Homo sapiens: one gene and its partners. The protein of the gene in region 1 purifies or fractionates together with the protein of each later gene. This does not show direct contact. Each region holds a gene or a part of one and is shown in the gene's direction. Other genes may lie near its edges. The genes, in order: AKAP1, RBMS2, NAA25, CKAP5, LARP4, FARP1 and AMY1A.

Region 1 (2,800 bases):
GTAAGTTCTGCCCTTCTTTTCCTTCTGTGTTGCTGGCCCGAAGTAATGGATTGATTAGGAGCTGGTCCTGGGATTTGTTTCCTCTTGAGTTAATCAGAGGATATAACTGTAGACAAGCACCTCCTAGGGAACACTTTGGATGTCCTGATTGGCAGTGGTGATGTCAGTGTCCTCTAGTGGGTAGAGGCCAAGGATGCCACTAAACATCCCATAGTATTCAGGACAGCCCCCCACAGCAAATAATTATCCAACCGCAAATGTCAATAGCGCCAAGGTGGAGAAACCCTGTGCGAGACTTTCTGGGACCTTCTGTCTGTTGAGTTTTTCTGTCCTCTATCTTATGGTATGAAAGCTTAGATTTCTTCAGCATATTAAAAAGCCTATCCTGGCCAGGTACAGTGGCTCACCCCTGTAATCCCAGCACTTTGGGAGGCCGAGACGGGCAGATCACTTGAGGTCAGGAGTTTGAGACCAGCCTGGCCAACATGGCGAAACCCCCATCTCTACTAAAAATGCAAAAATCTGCTGGGTGTGGTGATGCACACCTGTGATCCCAGCTGCTTGGGAGGCTGAGGCAGGAGAATCACTTGAACCTGGGAGACGGAGGTTGCAGTGAACCAACATTGTGCCACTGCACTCCAGCCTGGGTGACAGAGCAAGACTCTGTCTCAAAAAACAAAAACAAAAACAAAAAAACCCTATCCTTATGCCACAGCAGCCAACAGAATACTTAAATAAATGTTCCTGTTGGCTAGAGCATAAGCCATGTCCCCCACCCTGTTACTCTTTTTTTTTTTTTTTTTTTTGAGACAGTCTTGCTCTTGTTATCCAGGCTGGAGTGCAGTGGCGTGATCTTGGCTCACTGTAACCTCCGCCTCCGGGGTTCAAGCGATTCTGCTTCAGCCTCAGTAACTGGGATTACAGGTGCCTGCCACCACACCTGGCTAATTTTTGTATGTTTAATAGAGACGGGGTTTCACCATGTTGGCCAGGCTGGTCTCGAACTCCTGACCTCAGGTGATCCACCTGCCTCAGCCTCCCAAAATGCTAGGATTACAGGCATGAGCCACTGCGTCTGGCCTACACTGTTACTCTCATACATCTGTTGCCTGCAGTGGCAACCGGGGAGGGGAGAACTCATGTTGGCTAGGGAGATGGCCCCAGGATGCCATGGACAAAAGCTTTAAGGGAACTTTCTTTTCTAGGTGGTGTTGATAAACCGGTCCCTGGTGGAGCGAGGCCTTGCCCAGTGGGTAGACAGCTACTACACAAGCCTTTGACCCCCATGCTGCTTCCTGAGAGTCTTTTTTTGCACTGTTGAAATTGGGCTTGGCACTCAAGTCAAAGATGAACATCGGAATAACAAACATTGTCCTCTCCAGAAAGTCCTTTCTTTCTCCATACTGTAGTCCTATTGAGAAGACATTTCGTCTCTGAGAAAAAAGGATGGAACTATGGGTTCTCTTCGCAAAGCCAAAGGATAGTGTTTAACAAGCCAGCTGGCTTATGCTGGTTCTCAGCTGTTTAAAAAAAAAAAAAAAAAGGAATAGAAACAGTTTCAACCAGATTGTCCTATTCCCCCTGTTCCATTCCCCTCTTCTTCCTTCTATCTCCTTCCCCGGCAAAAACCAAACAAACTGGCAGACAGGCCAGGGATGTATGTTGCTTGCTTGAGAGGGTTTCTTTTACTTCAAAATCTTTCTTCAGGGAGCAAGACATGAACTGACTAATTGGTATCCACTACTTGTACAGCTTACATAAATGAGTTGATGATATTTAACCAGTTTTTATAAACTTCATTTAGGTCTCTAAACACAGACTTTTTAAATTGCAACTGTAAATATGAAATGGTCATCACATCTGACCTTGGTCAGTGGGGAGGGGAACTGGTATCCTGCCAAGCCTGGTTGTAATTTGTAACCATTTTCTATTTGTGCAAACTCTGTAAATATGTGTTTAAACAAATGTAATATTTTGTACAAGATACACTGGAGAACAAAGGGAACTCAAGATTCTTCCAGCCACATGTCACCTGTAGGTAGAAGTAAACTCTGCAGTGCAGCTTCTGCTCTTGGCCCCTCTGGCCAGGGCCCCTGTGGCTTCCTGCACACTGGACAGGTGACTGTATGGTAGAGACTGTGATCTGGGAACTTTTTGCTGTACAAATCTGTTTAAAAAAAAAAAAAAGTAACTCATTGAATTAACTTGCAGTGGTGTGTTTGATTCTTTTTTAGACTGGCTTCAGCATTGTGCAGTTTAAAAATAAGTAAGTAACTTACATAAATCTTCAATTGTATGAACTGCAGCTTTGAGTCCATTTTTTTCCAGTGGTGAAGAATTGGCGGGGGGGGGGTGGTGAGTGTGGCGAGCTGGATCACAGGCCCCACACAACTGCCTCTGCAGGAGACCCATGGTTTTTTGAAGACAATTTGGCCAGAAATTTCTATCTGGCCTTTTCCTCTCTCTCCTTGTCCCACCAGGTGGCAGCCAAGCGTCCTCCGACTTCTTCACTGCATGTTAACTGGCCAGACTCAGTTTAAAGCACTGGCTTCCAAAACGGGTTGTGCCTTCTTTGGTTGTCATTCTTAATAGATTCGTGAAGTTATTTAATTTACTGTAGTGATAAGAATGATGTAAAAAATACATGTAAGTTATGGGATGAGATACTGCCTCAATTTAATAGCCCCTGCTCTTAAAGAAGGCTGGCCACTGCAGCCCAGGCCTACCCCAGTGCCCCGCCCCTGCCCCCTACGTTTGAGGCCTCTGGCTGCAGGGCTGTTGAGCTTGAGCTCTAGTTTTT
Region 2 (3,500 bases), on another chromosome or scaffold:
CCATGAGCCAGGAATACAGCCATTCTGCTCCCCAGCCCACCCCTTTTAACTGATTCCTACTCATGCACCTTGTGAATAGTGCTTCTGTCTGCATATTAGTTTAAGATACACACACGTCCTAGGAATCCTCATCAAAATAGTACCTGGAAGGATGGAGGAAGCTCATTAGGTTTCTTTTAGGCCTACTGCATTCCTTTTTGCATAGAAAGGGCTCAAGGGTAGAGAAGGGAGTGTGTTGAGGAAAAGCAGAAGAAAGTCAGGAAAGAGGAGGAAAATAAGTCATATAGGGAGACGTCTCCCTAACAGTGTACTTTAGAACCACCTGAAGTGCTTTTAAGATGCAAATGCTCAGACCAATTAAAATAGAATCTCTGGGGTAGAATACAGGTGTCAGTATTTTTTTTAAAGCCCCTCAGCTGCTTCAAATGTAGCCAAAAATCACTGCTGTAAGCCTGTTGATGTTTCTCTTTCTAGTATATGCCGACGGCTGCAGCTATGCAAGGAGCTTACATCTCCCAGTACACCCCTGTGCCTTCTTCCAGTGTTTCAGTCGAGGTAAGGGTGTTATCATTTCTTTGGATTGAGATTAGGAAAATGAACGGAGGCAGGTTTCCCCCTGATCAAGATCTTTCTCTCACAATGATGCTGATTCTGTGTTCACAAATAGCTGGTAGGTATACGAAGAACGTAGGAAGGATGTGCTCGCTTCGGCAGCATGCATACTAAAATTGGAACAATACAGAGAAGATTATGGCCCCTGTGCAAGGATGACATGCAAATTTGTGAAGCGTTCCATATTTAAAAAAAAAACAACAGCAGATGTAGGAAAGAAGGACTTGGTCTGAGTTCATGAATGAGGCCCTTCCTTACATTTGGCCAGCCAGTAGTTGACACCAGGATGCTGGCTTGTATTGACTAATGCGTCTTGGGAAGAGGACAGGCTGTAGGAAGGTTGGGGAAGTGGTGGTGTGGGTGGAAACACTCACACATGAGTGTGGAGAGTGGGTAGGTTTGGGAGGGCACTCGATGTAGGGTGGGCTTTGGTCAGGCTGCTGTAGTGGAGGTGAGGAAAGGAATGCGCAAGATGACCCCCCTCCTTGGCTATGGCACAGGAGAGCAGCGGCCAACAGAACCAAGTGGCAGTGGACGCACCCTCAGAGCATGGGGTCTATTCTTTCCAGTTCAACAAGTAACAGTGGGTAAGAACCACATGCTGGGGGGCAGGGAGGGCTGCACTGGCAGACAGCAGCTCAGCCCGGCCTGAAGTCAGACAGGTTCTCATGTTTGTCTTGTCTCCTCTCTGGCTTGTGCCTTCTTTAGGATTCCCCTCCCCATCTTTACTGAATAGAAATGAATTCTTGGAGATACTCATGCTCCCAGATTCCAGAGGGTTAACCAGGAATGGAGACCATCCGTCGGCCCTGCTAAGGACTAACACTTAGCCATCGTTTTTCACAGGCCTGGGCCTGGAAAAAGAAATCTCTACGTTCCTGCCCTTTACTATTGCTGATGGAGCCTGGGGGAACCATCACTTTTTTTGTGTGCTACATTCAAGGAGATCAAAAAAACTTTTCTTCTTTTGCAAAGAAAGCTTTTTGTTTTTAACTGCAACGTACTTTTCCCCTACCTTGAAGAGACATGGTGGTCGCAGCTTCTCATCTATATGAAAAAGTTTTCGATGTATTGGAATTATTTGGGAATGCTTTTAAAACAATTTGTAATTATTTCTTTACAAACCAAAACAGAACAGAAAGGTGTGGTGCTGGAACATCGATGAAGGAGCCCTACTTACTGAGCTTAGTTATGGACTTTTTTGATGCATGTGTGTATGTGTTTTAAAAAGTATGCAGGCTCTAAAAATGTTATTTTGTAAAGCTCTCAGCTCATGCACCCCATCTCCTCTTCACCCATATTATGCCTTCTTTCTCTTGTCCAGATTCTTCTTTTTCTCTTTTCTAAACAGCTGAGCCTGCCTACTTTGCCCTTTTACAGCTTTTAATTTTATGGATTTTTAAAAATGAAATTTCATGTGGAATTTGGGGTTGGGGGGCAGGCTGGGCAAGGAACAAGGCAGAACACTAAGTAGGCCATGGAAGTGGCTGTTCTTTCCCCCACCCTGCCACACCCTGGGAGAAAAAACTAGACTTTGGCTTCAGAAAGCACAGATGTGACCCAGGCTTACTAAAGAGACAACTCCACAGCCCTGGGAACACACCCTTGAGCCAAACTTGGTTGAAGACTAGGTCTTCCCTGGCAAGTTCCGGAAGAATGGACTTACTGACTTTTATCAACTCTTCTCACTGCCAAGGCCAACAGCATCTGAGGTATAGCTTTTTGGGAGTACCTGCTTTCTTGCCTCCTGGAGGATATTTTCTGTCCTGGGCTTCATGGCCCCTCTCTTCCCTGTTACACATTGCTGTGCTCAGAGCCTTTGCAGCTGCGACCTAGTTGAATCCACATAGGCTCCTTCCACACGGTGGAAGATCTGCTGCTTCACTCACAGACCAGGAGTTCTCAATCAGAGGTGGTTTTGTCCCTCAGGCCTTTGGCAACATCTAGAGACAGTTTTGATTGCCACGCCTGGAGGTGGGATGTGTGTGCTACTGGCATCTAGTGGCTGCTAAACATCCTACACTGCATAGGATAGTCCCCACTACCCCCAGCCAAGAATTATCTGACTCCAGGGGTCAATATTGCCAAGACTGGGAAACACTGATATAGACAGTGTTGTCCCTGCCTCCTGGGTTAGGGTAAATTTTCACCCCAACCCTGGACAAACAGTGCCTTTTGACACTCATGCAACTGTTGGGGAAGGACTGGACTGGGATCCTTGAATTCTCCCCAGACTTTGACTTTTGATAACTCTGCATATAGCAAGAGTGATTCTTGAAAGAGCTGTGGCTCCATGCTGAATGCACACATGTACTCAGAGGGATTCAGGTGGGCATTGTTCTGGTGTGTGCTGTGCAATGGTGGGAAAGGACAAAGCTCTCTAAACTGTCCAGAGCAACCTGCCCTGCCCCGGTGTGCTTGGACCCTTTGCCCAGGGAACCAGGACATCAGAAATAATGTTCCTTCTGTGGAAGGACAACGGGGAGCTAGGGTAGCAAAGAGCAATAAATTCCAACTCTTTATGAGGTCAGGAGTCCTTTAAAAAAGCCTATGTCTTGGTCTTTAACTGTCCCCTTCTGCAAGATGTGACTCTATACACATGGAGACAGATTGAAGAAAGACTTCACCCATCTTCTAGGAAATAAAATCCTGCTCTTGTCTTCTCCCAGTCACTCCCTTATGCACTGAAAGGAGAATTTGACTCCCTTGCACTTCAAGGCCAGGTGCCTCTCCACTAGACAGTCAGACAAAGGCAAATAATGGAGGATAGAGAGACAGGTGTTCATTAGGCTGGCCATAGGGAGAGGAAGGGGGTGACAGCAGGGGAAAAGAAACTGTAGTATCAGTTGTCACAAGTAGAGCTCGGCCCAGCTTTCCCTCCCTTCCCA
Region 3 (3,500 bases), on another chromosome or scaffold:
TAAATTAATTAATGCCCCTCTAGTCAGGATTTGTACTCTGTAGATACCGCAAACATTCCTTCTTTATTTGTATGTCTGTCTTATGAAGGCATTTGAGTTTGTGACCTCTGCTGTGCATACTCTTATACCCATACTTTATTTTTATTATTTATTTATTTATTTTAAAGAGATGAGGTCTCACTGTTTTGCCCAGGCTGGACTTGAACTCCTGGGCTCAAGTGATTCTCCCATCTCAGCCTCCCAAGTAGCTAGGACGACGGGCACACACCACCACACTGGGCTCCATTATTTCTTTCTTTCTTTTTTTTTTTGGAGACAGAGTCTCACTCTGTGGCCAGGCTAGAGTGCAGTGGTGCGATCTCGGCTCACTGCAACCTCTGCCTCCTGGGTTCAAGTGATTCTCCTGCCTCAGCCTCGTGAGTAGCTGGGACTACAGGCACACACCACCACGCCCAGCTAATTTTTGTATTTTTAGTAGAGACGGGGTTTCAACATGTTGGCCAGGCTGGTTTCAAACTCCTAACCTCAAGTGATCTGCCTGCCTCTGCCTCCCAAAGTGCTGGGATTACAGGTGTGAGCCACCACGCCTGGCCTCCATTATTTTATTATTATTATTATTATTTTAACTAAATAGTATTTCCTAGAGATAAAGTTCACTACCTCACTCCTTTAATAACTGTCCAGTGTTCCACAGTGTGAATGTAGAAATTTACTTAACCAGTTTTTGATGGATATTTAGGCTACTCACAAGAAACTTCTTGTTTTTTTTTGTTGTTGTTGTTGTTTTTGAGACAGGGCCTTGCTCTGTTAGCCAGGCTAGAATGCAGTGGCATCATCACAGCTCACTGCAGCCTTGATCTCCTGGGTTTAAGTTATCCTCTCACCACAGCCTCCTAAATAGTTAGGACTCCAGGCGTATGCCATCAAACCTGGCTAATTTTTATATTTTTTGTAGAGGTGGGGTCTCAATATGTTGCCCAGGCTGGTCTCGAACTCCTGGTCTCAAGCGATCTGCCTGCTTCAGCCTCCCAAAGTGCTGGGATTACTACAGGTGTGACCTGTCAGGCCTGGCCCTTTTTTTTTTTTAAACTACATTATAGCTCTATGGATAGTAAAAAGTTAGATTCTCAACAGGAAATTCATAATGTAATTTTTGGTATCCTTAATCTGCTAAACAGTTGGGCAAATCTAATTTGGTCAGAACTATCATCCTAGTTTTTTTGTTTTCAGTTGTTTGGAAAGATTTGATTCCTCTCCACTCTTTTTTGTCTTCTTCCAACATCTCATCTTTCTTAGCTCATGTCAGCTCAGTCCTCTTTGATGTTTTGGAACTGTATGGATGGGCAGCTTGTCTATGGACTAAATTTACTAGTCCCTAGATGCTGTTGGGATTTTATAAGTATATCCCATGTACTATTAATAGATGTTCAACCCAATACATTGTGAAACCTATCCTTTTACAAAGAAAATGATTATAAAAATTTACTGTCAGTAATGTACTTTTTTCTTTGAAGTAAAATAATCTTTAATAAGATAGTAGTAGTTTGTATGTAATAGTGGTCCCATTTTCTAAGAGAGTGAATAAGAAAATGTGACATTTAGGCCGGGCCCGGTAGCTCACAGCTGTAATCCCAGCACTCTGGGAGGCTGGGATGGGTGGATCACCTGAGGTCAGGAGTTTAAGACCAGCCTGGCCAACATGGTGAAATCCTGTCTCTACTAAAAATACAAAAATTAGCCAGGCGTGGTGGCAGATGCCTGTAATCCCAGCTACTTGGGAGGCTGAGACAGGAGAATCGCTTGAATCCAGGAGGTGGAGGTTGCAGTGAGCCAAGATCGTGCCATTGCACTCCAGCCTGGGTGACAAGAGTGAAACTCCATCTCAAAAAAAAAGAAAAGAAAATGTGACATTTTCCTTCTTGTGGTTGGACTCTATTCTGGTTATTGAGCAGAAATGAAACCAGCTTACCAACTTTTATAACTTTTGATTTTAGAGAAGTTGACAAGTGAGATTCAGAGTCGGGAAAATAAATGCATGGCTATGTACAAGAAGCTGAGCAGGTGGCCAGAGTGCAATGCCCTTTCCCGGCGCCTCTTACTAAAAAAGTGAGTAAAAGCTTTCTTTTGTACCATTTGACTGTAGTGAGGCTTTAAGACCTCACTATTGATTTTCTTGGTGTCTGTGTTTTGAAGTTTCTGGGCATAAAGTCTTCTTATAGTAGTTGTGTCCTGCATGTTTCTAAAAGTTTTTAAGGAGCCTTCATCTTTCAGTAGAGTATTATAATGGTACTTGTAGGCTGGGCATGGTGGCTCATGCCTATGATCCCAGCACTTTGAGAGGCCAAGGTGGGCAGATCACTTGAGGTCAGGAGTTTGAGACCAGCCTGGCCAACATGGCGAAACCCTGTCTTTACTGAAAATACAAAAATTAGCTAGTTGTGGTGGTGCGTGCCTGTAGTCCCAGCCCCTCGGGAAGCTGAGGCACAAGAATCGCTTGAACCTGGGAGGCAGAGGTTGCAGTGAGCTGAGATCATGCCACTGCACTCCAGCCTGGGTGACAACAATGAGACTCCATCTCAAAAAAAAAAAAAAGATACTTGTGCCACCATGGTGCTGAATTCTAGTTAGGGCTTAAGAATGAACACTGAAAATCATTAATTTCTCAAATTCAGTATTCCCCTAAAAGAGAGAGGCTTCATTCTTTGCTACAACACTTCTCTCCCCTTCCCTCTATTTTGGAAGTGCTTATGTGGGGACTTTTCTGTTATGAATATTAGTTTTCTAGACCTGGTCATTTTATTGAAGGAAAGAGTAGTTTACTACTCTTTACAAATACAAAGTAGTATTACTTTGAAAATGCCCTTTTAGATTTGCAAAGGAAACATGGAGTGGGTGGGGGTAAGCCAACCTACTACATACTAAAATATAACTTACAAAATAAATTGAATATCATGGTTCCTAAGGAAGATCTGTCACAACTTGGGTTTAATCCTGTGTGCATCATTCAATCTGATTTTAGCTCAGATGACTGGCAGTTCTATCTGACTTATTTCGATTCTGTCTTTCGACTGATTGAAGAGGCCTGGAGTCCTCCTGCTGAAGGTGAACAGTAAGTTGTCTTCTTTCCTGAATTATAACAGCACTTTTTAATATAGTGTAGTGAAAGGATTTCATTATAAGCCAATTGAATTCTCTTTTTCTGTCTCAATAAAGTATTCCTTTCAAAGTAAGACATTTTTTCATATTTTTTAAAGTATAAAATACACAAGTTCATTCTAAAAATCATGTTAGTGCCAAAATATGTGGTGTGCTAATTTCCACTTATCCTACCATTCCAAAAATAACTCTTGTTAATAGTTTGGTGCCTTTCCGTGAGATTTATTTCCATCTTTATGCTAAGATAATTTTTCTTTTTCTCCTTTTTTTTTTTTTTTTTTTTTTTGAGATGGAGTTTGGCTCTTGTCACCCAGGCTGGAGTGCAATGGCACGATCTTGGCTCA
Region 4 (2,733 bases), on another chromosome or scaffold:
AGTGTTTCCTCCCAGTACCTTACCTTTGGGGCCTGTGGAATGCATTTGCATTGATACCAAGTGAAATATTTTAAAGGCCCGCATTGTATCATTGTTCATTCTCAGAAATTTAGGAAGTGTGATGGATTTTTTGTTGTTTTGGTTTTCCTCTCTCCTGCCAGAATATTGATCTTAGTGGTAGGGTTACAGACACTCCAGTTCTATGCCCTCTTTAGATAATTGTTGGACACCTTCTCTTCCCCATGAATACACCATAGCCTTGGACACCTTGCTTCCTTCACAGGTTCAAATGAGTTTCTCCTATGTGACATTGGTCCAAACTTAATCTAATTCTTCCAAACATTTAAGGTCCTCGGGTTTTTCAGTTGGGCAATTACAGTATGCTTAGGAGTAGCTTCAGCTTTTTGGATTGCCCAAGTCAGCCCTGGGATTACTGGAGTACAATCCCCTGCATAACCCAGGATGCAGATGGATGACCCAATTTACATTCTGCCTTTCTATATCAGTTTTTTGCATTCTCAAGAAGCTTATATTGTATATTTCAGAGCACCCTTATCACCAACTCCAGGTAGATTCTTGTGGAATTTGTCGTTTTCAAGTATAGGAAATTCTTAATTGTTCTTTTTGGTGGGAGATTAACCAAGGCACTTTAGAAGGGGGATATGTGGATATCTGAATATTCTTTCTACTTTTTCCCCTCTAGGCATCTCCCCTCAGATGGAAGTCACATGTGTGCCCACGCCCACAAGCACAGTGTCCTCCATAGGTAACACAAATGGGGAAGAAGTGGGGCCATCTGTCTACTTGGAAAGGCTAAAGATCCTCCGACAGCGATGTGGTCTGGACAACACAAAGGTACTGCTCCTTTTCTTCTGTGCAGTTCAGGGAGGGTAGTCACAAGCAGGTCCGAGGCAGGCTGGCCCACAGAGAAGTGGCTTAGTCTTGCTGTAGTTCTGGAGCTGCATCTTGACCTGCTTGACCTGACCTTAGACAATCTCTCTCCTTCTCTCAATAGCAAGATGACCGACCTCCTTTGACCTCTTTGCTCTCCAAACCAGCAGTTCCTACTGTCGCCTCTTCCACAGACATGCTCCACAGCAAACTCTCTCAGCTCCGGGAGTCACGGGAGCAGCACCAGCATTCAGACCTGGATTCTAACCAGACTCACTCTTCAGGAACTGTGACCTCCTCCTCCTCCACAGCTAACATAGACGACTTGAAAAAAAGACTGGAGAGAATAAAGAGCAGTCGCAAATGAAGCTGCCCCACTCCCCCGGCACCCTGCAGCTTTAGTTTACTAAACTAGAAGTCCTCATAGTTTAAAATGGCCTCAGCAGGCCTAGTGTATACAAACTGGTTGTATGTATCATGCCGTGGAGCTAGGGGGAGGAGTCATTGTGGCACAAGTATTTGTACATACTCTGCTTCTCTCTGTCAGCGTCCTGCTGCTCTAGAAGACTGTCCGTGGATGAGTTTAGTGTACAGACTTGTAAACAGCTGCCCCCTCTCTGCTCAGTCTAGTTCCCAGATCCTTTTCTTTTCTTTTTAATTGCTCATTTGTAAAATTGTCCTAATCTTTCCTAGCTTTTTAATAGTTAATATTAGAAACTCTTTAATAGTTTTCCTTTCAGTTTGTGAGCTCTTCTCTGTCGCCCTGAAGGGTCACTGTATTCTGTATGAATGCATGGCATGATACAACTAATTTAAGAGTCTTTTATAAATAAAGTTTGCATTAACTATACCTGACTCCCAAGATGCTCCATATCATGGAGTGTTGGGCAGCAATTTTTTAACTTTTGGTACCAGCTGGGTATTCAGCCAGTTAGAGAAAGGTTAATTACTGCTTACAGAGCTTCCCTTTTTCTTGGCTCACAGACTTGGAGCTGTCTTTTATTCCTTTGGAATGGAAGGAACTCTCCTTCCCTGCTCTCCACAAACAGCTCCTAGGGAGCAGAAAAATCTCATCCTTCCTTGTTTTGAGATTTTGGTCATGATTTCCCTCCAATTATCACCAGTCGTTTCAAGAAGCTCTTGGGCATCCTACCACTTTGCTGACCAAAGGCACACAAGATTGCGCCCAGAGATTGGCTGGGCTTCAGTGGTTCTCACACTACAACTAGATTTGTGTTCATTTGACTAATGGAGTTTGGGAAATCTTAGTGGTTTGCTGCTTGGTTGTATGAGTCTCTTTTGGTCCAGGCTAACAGTTGCTTCACATTCAGTCAGAGTAAGGATGAGAAAGTGAGCTGAGTATTCACCTCTGGAATAAATTCCACAGGACCTCCCTCCACAGTCAGAAAAACTCTTCAGGATGAAAAGGTTCTGGATTCAGGAGGAGATTTTGGGCAGTTATAAAGTTCAAAGGAACTTTCCTATTGTAGCCCACCTTCAATTCAATTGATGTCCAAGAAATGAAAGATTGATGGAAGATTAATCCTGTAAAGGTTCCAGTCATCGTTTTCAGGTGGCCCCGGAGCCTCCTGAAATTAAACTTGTCTCTCCTTTATAGTGGGAACATGGGAGTGGGTATTTGTTCACTGAAGGGATGATGGAGGCGTTTGCTGCTATAGTGGAAAGACATATTTAGAAAGAATGGCTACAAAGGCTGGGCCTGGTGGCTCACTCATACAACCGTAGCATTTTGGGAGGCTAAGGTGGGTGAATCACTTGAGCCCAGGAGTTCAAGACCAACATGGGCAACATGGCTCTACCAAAAAAATACAAAAATTAGCT
Region 5 (3,310 bases), on another chromosome or scaffold:
ATTAGTGCATAATTTCTCAGTGAATAAAGTTGTAGCTCTCATATACTAAATAGACAAGTTTACATGCTGTTATTTAGAAAATGACTAAAATATTAAAAACCGTGTTGTGTTAATCTGTTTTAAGTCATACCATGTTCAGAGTTCTATGTAAGGTGGGTTTTATTTTTCTTTTAAGGGATAGTTTGTAATAGTAAGAACTGTCCCATATGTTAGTAAATTACATATGTACAAATTGAAACTGTAAATTGTGAACACTGGAAAGCACCATTGTGACATAGAGTAAACATCTTAGTAATATATTAAAGTGAATGTAAATGGTGGTTAAAATTACATTACTGTGAAATTCATCTTCCAACTCTAAGTTAAGCTTTGGAGATACATGTTAGTGGTTAACTGTTAAGAGCTTTGAAAACACTGCACATATCTGTACAAGCCAGAATTACTATTTCTTTGACTTATTATTAGCTTGGCAGTTGCTTTTGATTTGATTGTTTTATGACATGGTATACTACTATATTTACTCAGTTTGAAACTATTCATTTCTACACACTATTTTTAAAAATTGCCTACTAGGTGAAACATAACAATAAAACTACCTGTGCTGAAATTTGGGGGAAGTTTAGGTCCTTTAAAAAAACATATTAATCATTGACTACATCTATGATAAAAGTGCTTATTTTGGTTTACTAAGATAATGCAGTTGGTGGAAATGATAAACGTTTTAAGTGTTAACATCCTTTGAATGCGTTGGATTTCAGAGAATAAACATTTTGTAAAAATCACTTGGTAAGGATTATAAACTTAATTACTGCACTTAAAATGAAACATTACTTTTTTTAAACAATGTGTCACAAATGTAGGTCTGTATTACTTGTATGCTTGTGTGACTTACTGTTAGTCCAGCTCTAAAAATTTAAAGGTTGTAATTGAAATACAAGAAAAGAGCCTTCTTTTAGAAGAAAGCAAGTATATTTTTGCTTTTACTTCAAATGTTATTTAAAGTAGAAATTTAATTTGTAGATATAACCTTTAAAAATTTTCTCATTAAGACAATGTTTTTAATTTAATTTGCCTCATTACATCTAATAGTTCCCATTTGATGGCATGTATAGGGAAGAGTGAGAGAGTGTGTGTGTGTGTATGTGTGTGTAATATTTATATATATTCACAGTATGTATTTAGCATTTATTTTATTACAGCAGATTTAAAGTTTGTATCTAAATAATGCCTATGAGTTGTGTGAAGCTCTTGGCTTTTTTCCAACGTTACTTTGTAACTAATGAGGGTGGATGTTCATTGTAGTTTATTTATTTGGTTCTTTAGATGGAGGAATTTAAAAAATCAAATTTTTCTCTTCACCTTTATGACTTGACATTTCCTTGATCTGTTGGAGGCTAAAAGTAGGTATAAATGATATTGAATGTTGGGTATAGTGATACTCTGCCATAGTTCTTACTGCATGAAGAGAACAAGAGTCACACAAGTTCACCACTTTGCACTTCATAGAGAAGGTACATAGAGACATTGCAAAACCTGTCTCCATTTGCTATCCTGATAATTAAGGTTTTCATAATACCTAGGGCCTGTCTCTGAGTAATTTTAATTTTGCCAAATACACTGACATTTAAAATAGTGATCCATCTAAATTTTTTTCAGCTGGGTTTTGAGGAATATAAGAGCTTTCAATGATAAAGGTTTGTTGTAGTTGTCTTATGTGCTGAATTTGCAGATGATCAGATGCTGTGCAGAATTCTGATTTATTTTTGTTTCCTAAAATTAAGATAGCTTGAATATTATTTCACATTCCTTTTTCTTTTTTAAATAAACAGGTTTGCTTTGGAAAGGCTTAATGATGGAATGTTAGCATCTTCACTAGGGTAAAGAAGAACAAAAAGAATGTTGCTGGAACGTAAAATAGTATTTAAAAGTTAATGAACACTTCTCTAGTTTTCTTAGTTATGGCCTTAATAATTAGTCTCTTGGCTTAAATGTCCACTGGTTTTACTTTGACACAGTTGAACAACACTGGGGTTAAGTCTCTGGTATTTAGGCTGGCAATATATATATTAACCATATTTTAAAAGTACCAATTTTGTTTTTACAGAAAAGATAAAACTCAAAAGAGAACAGTGTATTCCTTCTGAGGGGCTTTTATAAATTATTAACTATAATATATGATGGATTTTTTCCTAATTTTTTATATTTCCTTACAATTTTGGTGGCCATTAATTTAACTTTAGGCTTTTGGGCATATGCTAGTCTGAGCTTCCGAAAAGATACATATATGTTTCCCTTTTCATTAGCTGAATGAGGATATTTTAAGAAGTTGAAAGAGAATTTATTTTCAAGTTGTGAGTAAATCCTCCTTTGAAATTCACCTGATTATTAGATAACTTAAAGTTTATTTTTAAAAGCTGACAACTTTTTATGAATCTTCGAGTTGACAGTTCCTAAAAGCGTAACTCAGATATTAATGGGCTGTGTATTAAATGGTTTTATTTTCAGTTTTGCAGCACAGAACACTGTTGAAATATCCATATCAACTTGATTTTTTTAACCTAATTCAGGTGTCCTTTGCATCTCTTAAATGTTGGGGGTGGGGGTCAGAGCCAGTTATCCGGCTTCTGTTTTGTCGATTGCTTAGATTTGTTCCTGTTGTCAAAACTGTTACCCCCAAAATTGGTGTGACACATGCTCATGCATAAAATGTTAAAATGAGTACATCCTTGTATTTGTATTTGTTTTCAACATCGCCAAGGTGCTATGGGAAATTAACAAAATTAGAAAAAAAATAAAATTATTAAAAAGCAGGACTGGTTTCCTTTTCTCTAGGTGGTGTATGTCTAATGACTACTTCTGTCTACCTTTCAGTATTATATGTTGCCCTCGCTAATTCTATTATTATTATTGTCTAAGTTGTTTTTTGGATGATGAGGGCAGTGGGAAGTAATGGTGTTTCACTTAAAACAAGGGCAGAGAGACAAGATACAGCTTTATGATCCTGGGGTATTCTTTTAGTTATTTTAGTATCAGAAGCAGTTATTAAAGGGTGAAAAATGGCTGGGCGCGGTAGCTCACGCCTGTAATCCCAACACTTTGGGAGGCCAAGGCGGGCGGATCACCTGGGGCCAGGAGTTCAAGCCCACCCTGGCCAACATGGTGAAACCCCATCTCTACTAAAAATACAAAAATTAGCCAGGCATGGTGGTGGGCACCTGTAATCCCAGCTACTTGGGAAGCTGAGGCAGGAGAATCGCTTGAACCTGGAAGGTGGACATGGCAGTGAGCCAGGATCGCGCCATTGCACTCT
Region 6 (3,500 bases), on another chromosome or scaffold:
AAGCTAAGCCCCAGTGAGACTGCCTACATGGTGTAATGGCAGGGACTGCAGACTTCATTTAGCCAAGAAAGAAATGCAACAGTCAGGCCTAAGACTGTTCCTGCAATTCATATTTTGAATAGAGATCCTGGGCCTCTGCAAATTGCATCCCCAAGCCGACTACTTGTGCAGTTTGCCCTGCTGAGCCCTCCTCGCCCCGGGAGGCAGAAGGGGAGGGGTCCTCAGCAATATGCTGAGCACCTCCTAAACAACATCACCTGAAAAAGGAACCTAGAGGAGAGCCATTCTCAAATCTGATCCTGGACTGAGCTCGAGAGCTGGGTTGAGAGCTGGGTTGATCAAAGTTGGGATTTTGCTATTATTGTGACAAAGGGTCCAGCCTTGCAGTCCAGATCCTGAAAGGCCTGGGACAAGGCCAGGTAATTTGGGGAGTCCGTCCTGCATTGTGCAGGATGTTCAGCGGCATCCCTGGCCACCCACTAGATGCCCGCAGCAACCCCTCAGTTGGGACATCTAAAAATGTCTCCAGACTTTACCAAATGGGACAGCATTGCACCCATTTGAGAAGCACCGGTAGAGAGCAAATACACAAATATATAAAAAGGGAGATTTGGGCGTGGTGGTGCAAGCCTGTAGTCCCATCTCCTGGGAGGCCAAGGCTGGAGGATCGATTGAGCCCAGGAGGTAGCTACAGTGGGCGATAACTGCACCACTGAACTCCAGTATGAGTGACAGAGCCAGACCCTGTCTCAAAAAAAAAAGAAAAAGAAAAAAGGAAGGGAGAGCTTCCACTAAGCAGGATGGGACACGTCCCGCCATTCTCTGCCATGTCCATGAAAATAGGAGGTAGCGTTCTCCCCAGCAACCAGAGGCCACCTCGCTCCTAACTGCTCCAATGGAGCGGGCAGTGTCACTGCAGCAAGGTACTTCCAGCTCCACACTGAGTGAGTGCCCAGGCCAGTGGGTCTCCACTGTACCTCAGGAACGCCTGGGTGCTGGCTGTTCCCTTGCTCTTCTGCTGAAGTGGCAGATTACCAACCAGGCGGCCTGACTTCACCTTGTGTTTCTGTAAGCGATGCCCACCAAAGTGTCAGGAGTCCGTCCAAACAAAAGGTTGACTAACTGGCGTTCCCGTGTTGCAGGTGGATGGAAGTGATCCGCAGTGCCACCAGCTCTGCCTCGCGACCCCACGTGTTGAGTCACAAAGAGTCTCTTGTGTATTGATGGCCGGACACACTCGTTTCCGCAGTGGCTGCTTTCCTGGAAGACGTTTCCTTTCTTCTGTATTAATGAAGCCTGGTAAAATTAACACCTGTCTGAAAATCAAAAACATGGCTTCCCAGCAGCTCTCCTGTCTCCACAGCCGCGTTTTTTAACCCCGACCTCTCAGCGTCTGAATGAACAGCGCTCCCACCTCCAGTCCTGGCATCCGCTGGGGGCGCTGTTCTTTAGCTAGTGCCAGTATTAAAACATTGTCATTACGAGAGTGCCAAATGACATCTTCCCTCCACCCTGCCCCTGAAAAACAGTACACACACATCCGTTCAACACAAGACAGGGCAAGTGTTTTTCTTCCTAAAAAAAGTTCTTTCTTTTATTATTTTCACCTATTGGCTGCTGCATTTTACGAAGTGGACTTCCCGGTGTTTGTTTGTTTGTTTGCAATACACTCAGTGCAGCCTTAAGCAAATGAGATCATTTTCAGATTTCATTTTTTTTTTCAGTCTTTCTACTTTTGTAATAATAGGAAGTTAGTAGGACTCACTTCTCTGATTAATAAGCAATTTGCAGCACACAGCGTTCCACTGCGGGGTTTCACGCTCACCTGAAAACACCTGTTCCCAACCTACTTCTTGGTGCAAGTTGACCAAATCGTTTTAAGTGGTAACTCTTTCCAACCGTAGCAGGGTTGTTTTCTGTTAAGCAAAGCCGAGATCCAGTGCAATACCTGGACTGTCACCGTCCTGTGAGTGGTGTACACAATGGGAAGATAATAAGCCGTGGTGTTTTGCTGTCTGTCTGTGTCACAAGCATGAAAACCCGTGTGTCATTGATCAGCACCATTTGTGGTATGTTCCGTGATGAGCGTTTAGTGAGCCTGCTGGCTGCAGAGCACTATGAAATCATGGTACGTAGTCCCCGGCACCTGTCGTTATTCCTATATCCTCCTGCAACTGTGGTTTGAAACTGCGCATTCTCTAGTAGTATATATCGTGCCTGTCTTCAAAAACATTTCCCTTTTTATACTCATTCCCCCCAGGCATGGGGTAGTGTCAGTCGGACTGCACAGGGAACACGGTTTCCAGTGGCTTTGGCCCCTACTCGGGAAACGTCTGCCTGTTCTCGATGGTGATGGGGTGGCTGCCATTCCCTTGGTTTTCCTAAGCCCTTTCTAACGAGAGTCTCAAACAAGCGGAGGCGAGGGCCAATTCAACCCCATTCTTTCCAGCGCCCCGCACCATAGCACCTGCCCACCTGAGAACCAGGAACGCACCCTCTCTGTGGAGCTCTGACTGGTGTAGCTGGAAACAAACAGCAACTTGCAAACGGACGAAGAGCCTGCCGTGTGTTAATCATTTGCCTTACAAGATGTACCAGACGGTTTCCAGTACTAACAAAGGGAATAAAAATACCTCACGCCACAATCCAGCATATTGATGTTTTAAGGCAAAACAACCAACTTTGTCTGTAGTCTTCATTTTCTGTGTGGGGGGGGAGGGGGGAAGGGGACACTCCAGCAAGGGTTTCTAAAGCCCCAGTGTTCAGAGTGACACAGGGAGGGCCTGCCCCCCACTGTTCCCTATGCTCCCCCCACCTCCAGGCAGGGGCAGAGCAAACAAACAGCTCCGGGCCACACAGCAGCATCAGGCTCCCTCCAGAAGTCACCACTCACTCATTCCTGGAGACTTGGGGACAAGGCAGTCTCCTCAGCTATTTATTTCTGAATGATTGATTGATTCCAAACTACTTGCTGGACACTGGTGGTTCTGACCTGTGACCAGCACCTCTGCTTCCTGTGTGCCCTCAAGAAAATACTAGTGTGGGTAACAGTCCATCTGAGTGGAGTTTGAGACACACTACACATGAGACACACAATGATGCAGATACTCGTTTTCTTGAGCTTTATTGGCCCCTGCATGATACAGTCCCTGTGCTTAAGAACATGCCCTATTAGGTCACTCTGCCTTTGCTGACACATTTTATAGCAGAAATACACAAGCTGTTTTTAAAGGAGGGAAATATAAAAAATGTTTATAAACTGACAGTGTTTTGCCAGAGGAAAGGTACAAAATGCTACATACAGAACCAAACCAGCCACTTCACAAGAGCAATGCAGGGATAAAACTATTGGATAAGGAAGGCAGATGCACTTCCAAGAAAATCAGAACCCAGCAAGAAGTGGCCAGTGCACCCCAAACCACACTGGTGTCCACCTCATTGGCAGCAGCCAGCCAGGACACAGCTCAAAAACGCAGGAGCTACCAGCCACCCAGTCCACG
Region 7 (4,297 bases), on another chromosome or scaffold:
ATTTTTCCAGTTGAGTAGTTCAGCAGAGGTAAAAGGGTGATACACAAAAGCATGCCTTTCTACCGTATGTCTGACCTCATCTGTCCTAGTATATCGCTGCTCTCTCAGGGCATTTGAATTCCCGTCTTGGGCCGTTAAGCGGGCTGCCAGGGAAGTGGATTTTCCCGCAGTTTCACTTTTGTTCTTGTCTACTCTGGGTGGTCTAGGGGCTGTGGGCTCAGGAGAAGGGGGCCTCCCCACTGGATAAGGGGTTGAGGGCACTGTTGGTGCCATCTCCTGCCTTGAGTCCTCGAGCTCTGGGTCAAACAGAACTTTAGGTGCTGGCTTCTCTTGGCCGGTGGAGCGAGAACTTTCCTGAAATAAATGTCCCTTTGCTACTACTACTGCTGCTGCCTGTCCTTTTACCACTGTAGAGGATCTAAAACTAGCTGTAACTAGGAATCTCTATATGGAAATTGATATGGGTGCAGGCACACCATGAGCGATCAGGCCAAGCTTCCGCTCAGGTGGAGTGGGGCAAGTTGAAAAGACTTGTCTTACTAAGTTTCAGATGTCTGGACTCCAAGTGCCAGTTCCTTCCTGGTGTTCAGCCACTGTGTTAATCCTCCGCGGGGATCACTGCTCTGGCGAGGCGTTCAACCGGGGCCATTTCCTACCTGGGAGCGCTCTTTGGATCCCATCCCTCAGGCTGGCCAGAGTCCCTGGCAGCCTGAGGGATGCCCCGGCCTTACTCCACAAGGCATGCCTAATCTGCCTAAGGAGCTGCCTCGGCCGTCCATCAGTTATCTTGCTTCCAGGTCAGGGAACCAAGAAATGTAGCAGGACAAGCGGCAGACAAAACTCTCAGACACCGAGTTGTAGAAGGAAGGGTGTTATTCACCTGGGAGCATCGGATAGCTACTGTCTCAAAATCCGAGCTCCCCAAGTGCACAATTTCTGTCCCTTTTAAGGGCACACAACACTAAAGATGTCACATGAAAGGGTCGTGATTGATTTGAACAAGCCAGGGATATGCGACAAGGACTACATGCACCCGTGGTCAGGGAGAAACAGAATATGGAAGGGAGTTTCACAATGTTCTTCTATACAATGTCTGGAATCTATGAATAACATCGGCTTCTAAATCATAAGTTGATTTGTAACTACTGGGTTTAGGCCAACCAGGCCCAGGCCTGGTTTTGTGCCTTTGATTTTGCTTCCTTGTTGTTTTTACTGAATAGAAAACAATATAAAACAAGAGGACAGGGTCTTTCTCTCTTCTCAATATCAGCACTGGATTGTAGAACTTGTTGCTGATTTTGGCCTGGCATTCAAGTTAACTCTTCCCCTTGGTATCTGTACATACCTTTGATGTCAGTGTTTAGTACACGTGGCTTGGTCACTTCATGGCTAAAAACGTGCTTGTGGAAGACAAGTCTGGCTTGGTGAGTCTGTGTGGTCAGCAGTCTCTGATCCGTGCAGGGTATTAATGTGTCAGGGCTGAGTGTTCTGAGATTTATCTAGAGGCTGGGAAGGGCTCCTGAACCAGTTGTTTCCGTCTTGTCGGTCTGTCAGGGTTGGAAAGTCCAAGCCATAGGACCCAGTTTCCTTTCTTAGCTTACGTTATCTACCAGAGCACCGTGGGCTGTTACTTGCCTTGAGTTGGAAGCGGTTCGCATTTATACCGGTAAATGTATTCATCCTTTTAATTTATGTAAAGTTTTTTAGTATGCAATTCTCGATCTTTTAAGAGTTGACAACAAATTTTGGTTTTCTGCTGTTATGTGAGAACATTAGGCCACAGCAACATGTCATTGTGTAAGGAAAAATAAAAGTGCTACCATATGCAAAAAAAAAAAAAAAAGAAAAGAAAAGAAACATTAATGTCTAAGAGGTCATTGAGATGATTTCCATGAGAGACTTTTTGATGTTCTTCACCAGTTAGGATTATTATTGATAATCCTTTTCAGATTATGAATAAACAGTTTGCCCTCAAGTATTTATTCATGCTACTATTTACATTGTAAAATGTGCTTCTTACAGGAATATAAATAGTTTCTGGAAAGGACACTGACAACTTCAAAGCAAAATGAAGCTCTTTTGGTTGCTTTTCACCATTGGGTTCTGCTGGGCTCAGTATTCCTCAAATACACAACAAGGACGAACATCTATTGTTCATCTGTTTGAATGGCGATGGGTTGATATTGCTCTTGAATGTGAGCGATATTTAGCTCCCAAGGGATTTGGAGGGGTTCAGGTGGGTATGATTCATAGTATCAATTGCAGAATTCACTGTGCTTGTAGTAAACACTATTCTGATCTTCTACGTGAAGCTTGGGCAACATTTTACTTCACAGGTAAGTATTCTAAGTAAAAGAATTTTCTGAGGAAAAAACAATGTAGTATTCTTTGCAACTGTATATTTTGTTTCTGATATAATCTTTCTTCAACAAGAGCCCTCCGATGTGCTGTTAATATTTTCAAGAGATAGCTGCCTATACCAAGATTCAAGAATCTTTTGTATTATTGATTAGATTCTAGAACATTCAATGATATACAGTAAGACAGAATTTGGTACTTATGAAGACTGTTTAATTTGTAGGTCTCTCCACCAAATGAAAATGTTGCCATTCACAACCCTTTCAGACCTTGGTGGGAAAGATACCAACCAGTTAGCTATAAATTATGCACAAGATCTGGAAATGAAGATGAATTTAGAAACATGGTGACTAGATGCAACAATGTTGGGGTAAGTGAATTCTAGTTTCCTTTAAAAATAACAGATAGGAAAATGATTTCTGTCTCTTCTTTCTTGCTCCTTTTGAGCAGAAAGTTTTCCATATCAGTTTTAATTTTACTTCATACTTTAAAACTCAAAAGTAACTGTCACCTTATGTTCAATTTTTGAAAATATTTGTATATGTGCTCTCTACTAAAGAGATAAGTTAAAGTTTATAGCAGAGTTTACTTCTGAAGCAAAACATCAAATTTTAACCGCTATAACTATCCATATTTCCTGGAAGGATTTTCTGGTGAGGAATTTTAATTCCAGTTACAATATTTGCTCTCATTTTTAGATGACTTGTGTCTCCATTCCTAATTCTTGGGTTTTTTTTGTGGTGAATAGGTAGCTTATCTATTTAATGAGGAGCAGAATTTGAGATGAATAGCTACCTTATTTGTCTTCCAAGCTTAGTAGAGAGTACAGGCTTTCTCCTGGTGACCCACTGAAATTTCCCAAATAGTAACCTTTTCAGTCTCATCTGAGTTGTGTCTCCCCAAAATGGGCTTTTTGCCTTTCCTCCTATTTATGGTAGTTTCCGGTTCTCTCAGTTTATCATTCCTATATATATTTGGCCAAGTGTCTGGAATGAATGTAGGTGTTTAGTTCACATTACTTTCCTTTCACAGTTGATTTTTGATCTTGTAGGAAAATAGTTATAAGGTATGAAATATTTTGGAATTTTATTAGCACACTATAAATTTAATCAATAATTCTTTAAATTTCTGCCTCTCTGTAAGTCACACTGAATTAGAAACTTTGTTTTCTAGGTTCGTATTTATGTGGATGCTGTAATTAATCATATGTGTGGTAATGCTGTGAGTGCAGGAACAAGCAGTACCTGTGGAAGTTACTTCAACCCTGGAAGTAGGGACTTTCCAGCAGTCCCATATTCTGGATGGGATTTTAATGATGGTAAATGTAAAACTGGAAGTGGAGATATCGAGAACTATAATGATGCTACTCAGGTAATTTTTTTACGAGAGTGATCTGAATAAGGAGTGATATATGCCTTTTGTTGTAGACATGTAGCTAATTGAACTTCGTTGTAAATATGAATTTAGATCTCTTAGGGACAGAGGTTAACAAGTTTGACTACTTTAAGAAACTCAAATCCATATTTGAAAACCTTTAAATATTGATTTAAGATTTTTAATCAATACACATTTGTCCACTTTTAAAAAGCTCCCAACCAATTGAAAAACTCATCGACTTTATTTCCTAAGTTCTCTATTTTCTATTAGAAAATATTTCCAAGATACATCTATAGTAGAATGTGAGCATCCCCAGTGTCCAATGCAAGGAAGTCACCATAGAATATCTCTTGAGGAATCATGGAATAAATGAATAATCAAATGGATTCTCAGGCGAAAAGTGAGGTTTTATTAATCAATCATAACATTCTTACCTCAACAGGTCAGAGATTGTCGTCTGTCTGGTCTTCTCGATCTTGCACTGGGGAAGGATTATGTGCGTTCTAAGATTGCCGAATATATGAACCATCTCATTGACATTGGTGTTGCAGGGTTCAGAATT

What was found.
Region 2: the proteins of AKAP1 (region 1) and RBMS2 purify together in Homo sapiens (affinity purification with mass spectrometry; one large-scale study listed by BioGRID and IntAct). This does not show direct contact.
Region 3: the proteins of AKAP1 (region 1) and NAA25 purify together in Homo sapiens (affinity purification with mass spectrometry; one large-scale study listed by BioGRID and IntAct). This does not show direct contact.
Region 4: the proteins of AKAP1 (region 1) and CKAP5 purify together in Homo sapiens (affinity purification with mass spectrometry; one large-scale study listed by BioGRID and IntAct). This does not show direct contact.
Region 5: the proteins of AKAP1 (region 1) and LARP4 purify together in Homo sapiens (affinity purification with mass spectrometry; one large-scale study listed by BioGRID and IntAct). This does not show direct contact.
Region 6: the proteins of AKAP1 (region 1) and FARP1 purify together in Homo sapiens (affinity purification with mass spectrometry; one large-scale study listed by BioGRID and IntAct). This does not show direct contact.
Region 7: the proteins of AKAP1 (region 1) and AMY1A purify together in Homo sapiens (affinity purification with western blotting, with the first as the bait; one study listed by BioGRID). This does not show direct contact.

Annotation. Positions count from the first base shown.
Region 1 is NC_000017.11:57,119,045-57,121,844, forward strand, and holds the end of AKAP1 (A-kinase anchor protein 1, mitochondrial precursor), read left to right. Parts: intron 1-1,205; coding exon 1,206-1,280; 3' UTR 1,281-2,300; downstream 2,301-2,800.
Region 2 is NC_000012.12:56,587,820-56,591,319, forward strand, and holds part of RBMS2 (RNA-binding motif, single-stranded-interacting protein 2), read left to right. Parts: intron 1-474; coding exon 475-555; intron 556-1,112; coding exon 1,113-1,193; coding exon of another isoform or gene 1,194-1,199; intron 1,200-1,320; coding exon of another isoform or gene 1,321-1,442; 3' UTR 1,443-1,458; coding exon of another isoform or gene 1,459-1,667; 3' UTR 1,668-3,500.
Region 3 is NC_000012.12:112,074,284-112,077,783, reverse strand, and holds part of NAA25 (N-alpha-acetyltransferase 25, NatB auxiliary subunit), read left to right. Parts: intron 1-1,994; coding exon 1,995-2,106; intron 2,107-3,019; coding exon 3,020-3,109; intron 3,110-3,500. UniProt on the Homo sapiens protein: Non-catalytic subunit of the NatB complex which catalyzes acetylation of the N-terminal methionine residues of peptides beginning with Met-Asp, Met-Glu, Met-Asn and Met-Gln. May play a role in normal cell-cycle progression.
Region 4 is NC_000011.10:46,742,548-46,745,280, reverse strand, and holds the end of CKAP5 (cytoskeleton-associated protein 5), read left to right. Parts: intron 1-703; coding exon 704-855; intron 856-1,015; coding exon 1,016-1,258; 3' UTR 1,259-2,233; downstream 2,234-2,733. UniProt on the Homo sapiens protein: Binds to the plus end of microtubules and regulates microtubule dynamics and microtubule organization. Acts as a processive microtubule polymerase. Promotes cytoplasmic microtubule nucleation and elongation. Plays a major role in organizing spindle poles.
Region 5 is NC_000012.12:50,477,195-50,480,504, forward strand, and holds the end of LARP4 (la-related protein 4), read left to right. Parts: 3' UTR 1-2,810; downstream 2,811-3,310. UniProt on the Homo sapiens protein: RNA binding protein that binds to the poly-A tract of mRNA molecules. Associates with the 40S ribosomal subunit and with polysomes. Plays a role in the regulation of mRNA translation.
Region 6 is NC_000013.11:98,447,094-98,450,593, forward strand, and holds part of FARP1 (FERM, ARHGEF and pleckstrin domain-containing protein 1), read left to right. Parts: exon of another isoform or gene 1-1,142; coding exon 1,143-1,224; 3' UTR 1,225-3,500. UniProt on the Homo sapiens protein: Functions as a guanine nucleotide exchange factor for RAC1. May play a role in semaphorin signaling.
Region 7 is NC_000001.11:103,654,263-103,658,559, forward strand, and holds the start of AMY1A (alpha-amylase 1A precursor), read left to right. Parts: upstream 1-1,497; 5' UTR 1,498-1,666; intron 1,667-2,022; 5' UTR 2,023-2,068; coding exon 2,069-2,236; intron 2,237-2,581; coding exon 2,582-2,728; intron 2,729-3,531; coding exon 3,532-3,729; intron 3,730-4,177; coding exon 4,178-4,297. UniProt on the Homo sapiens protein: Calcium-binding enzyme that initiates starch digestion in the oral cavity.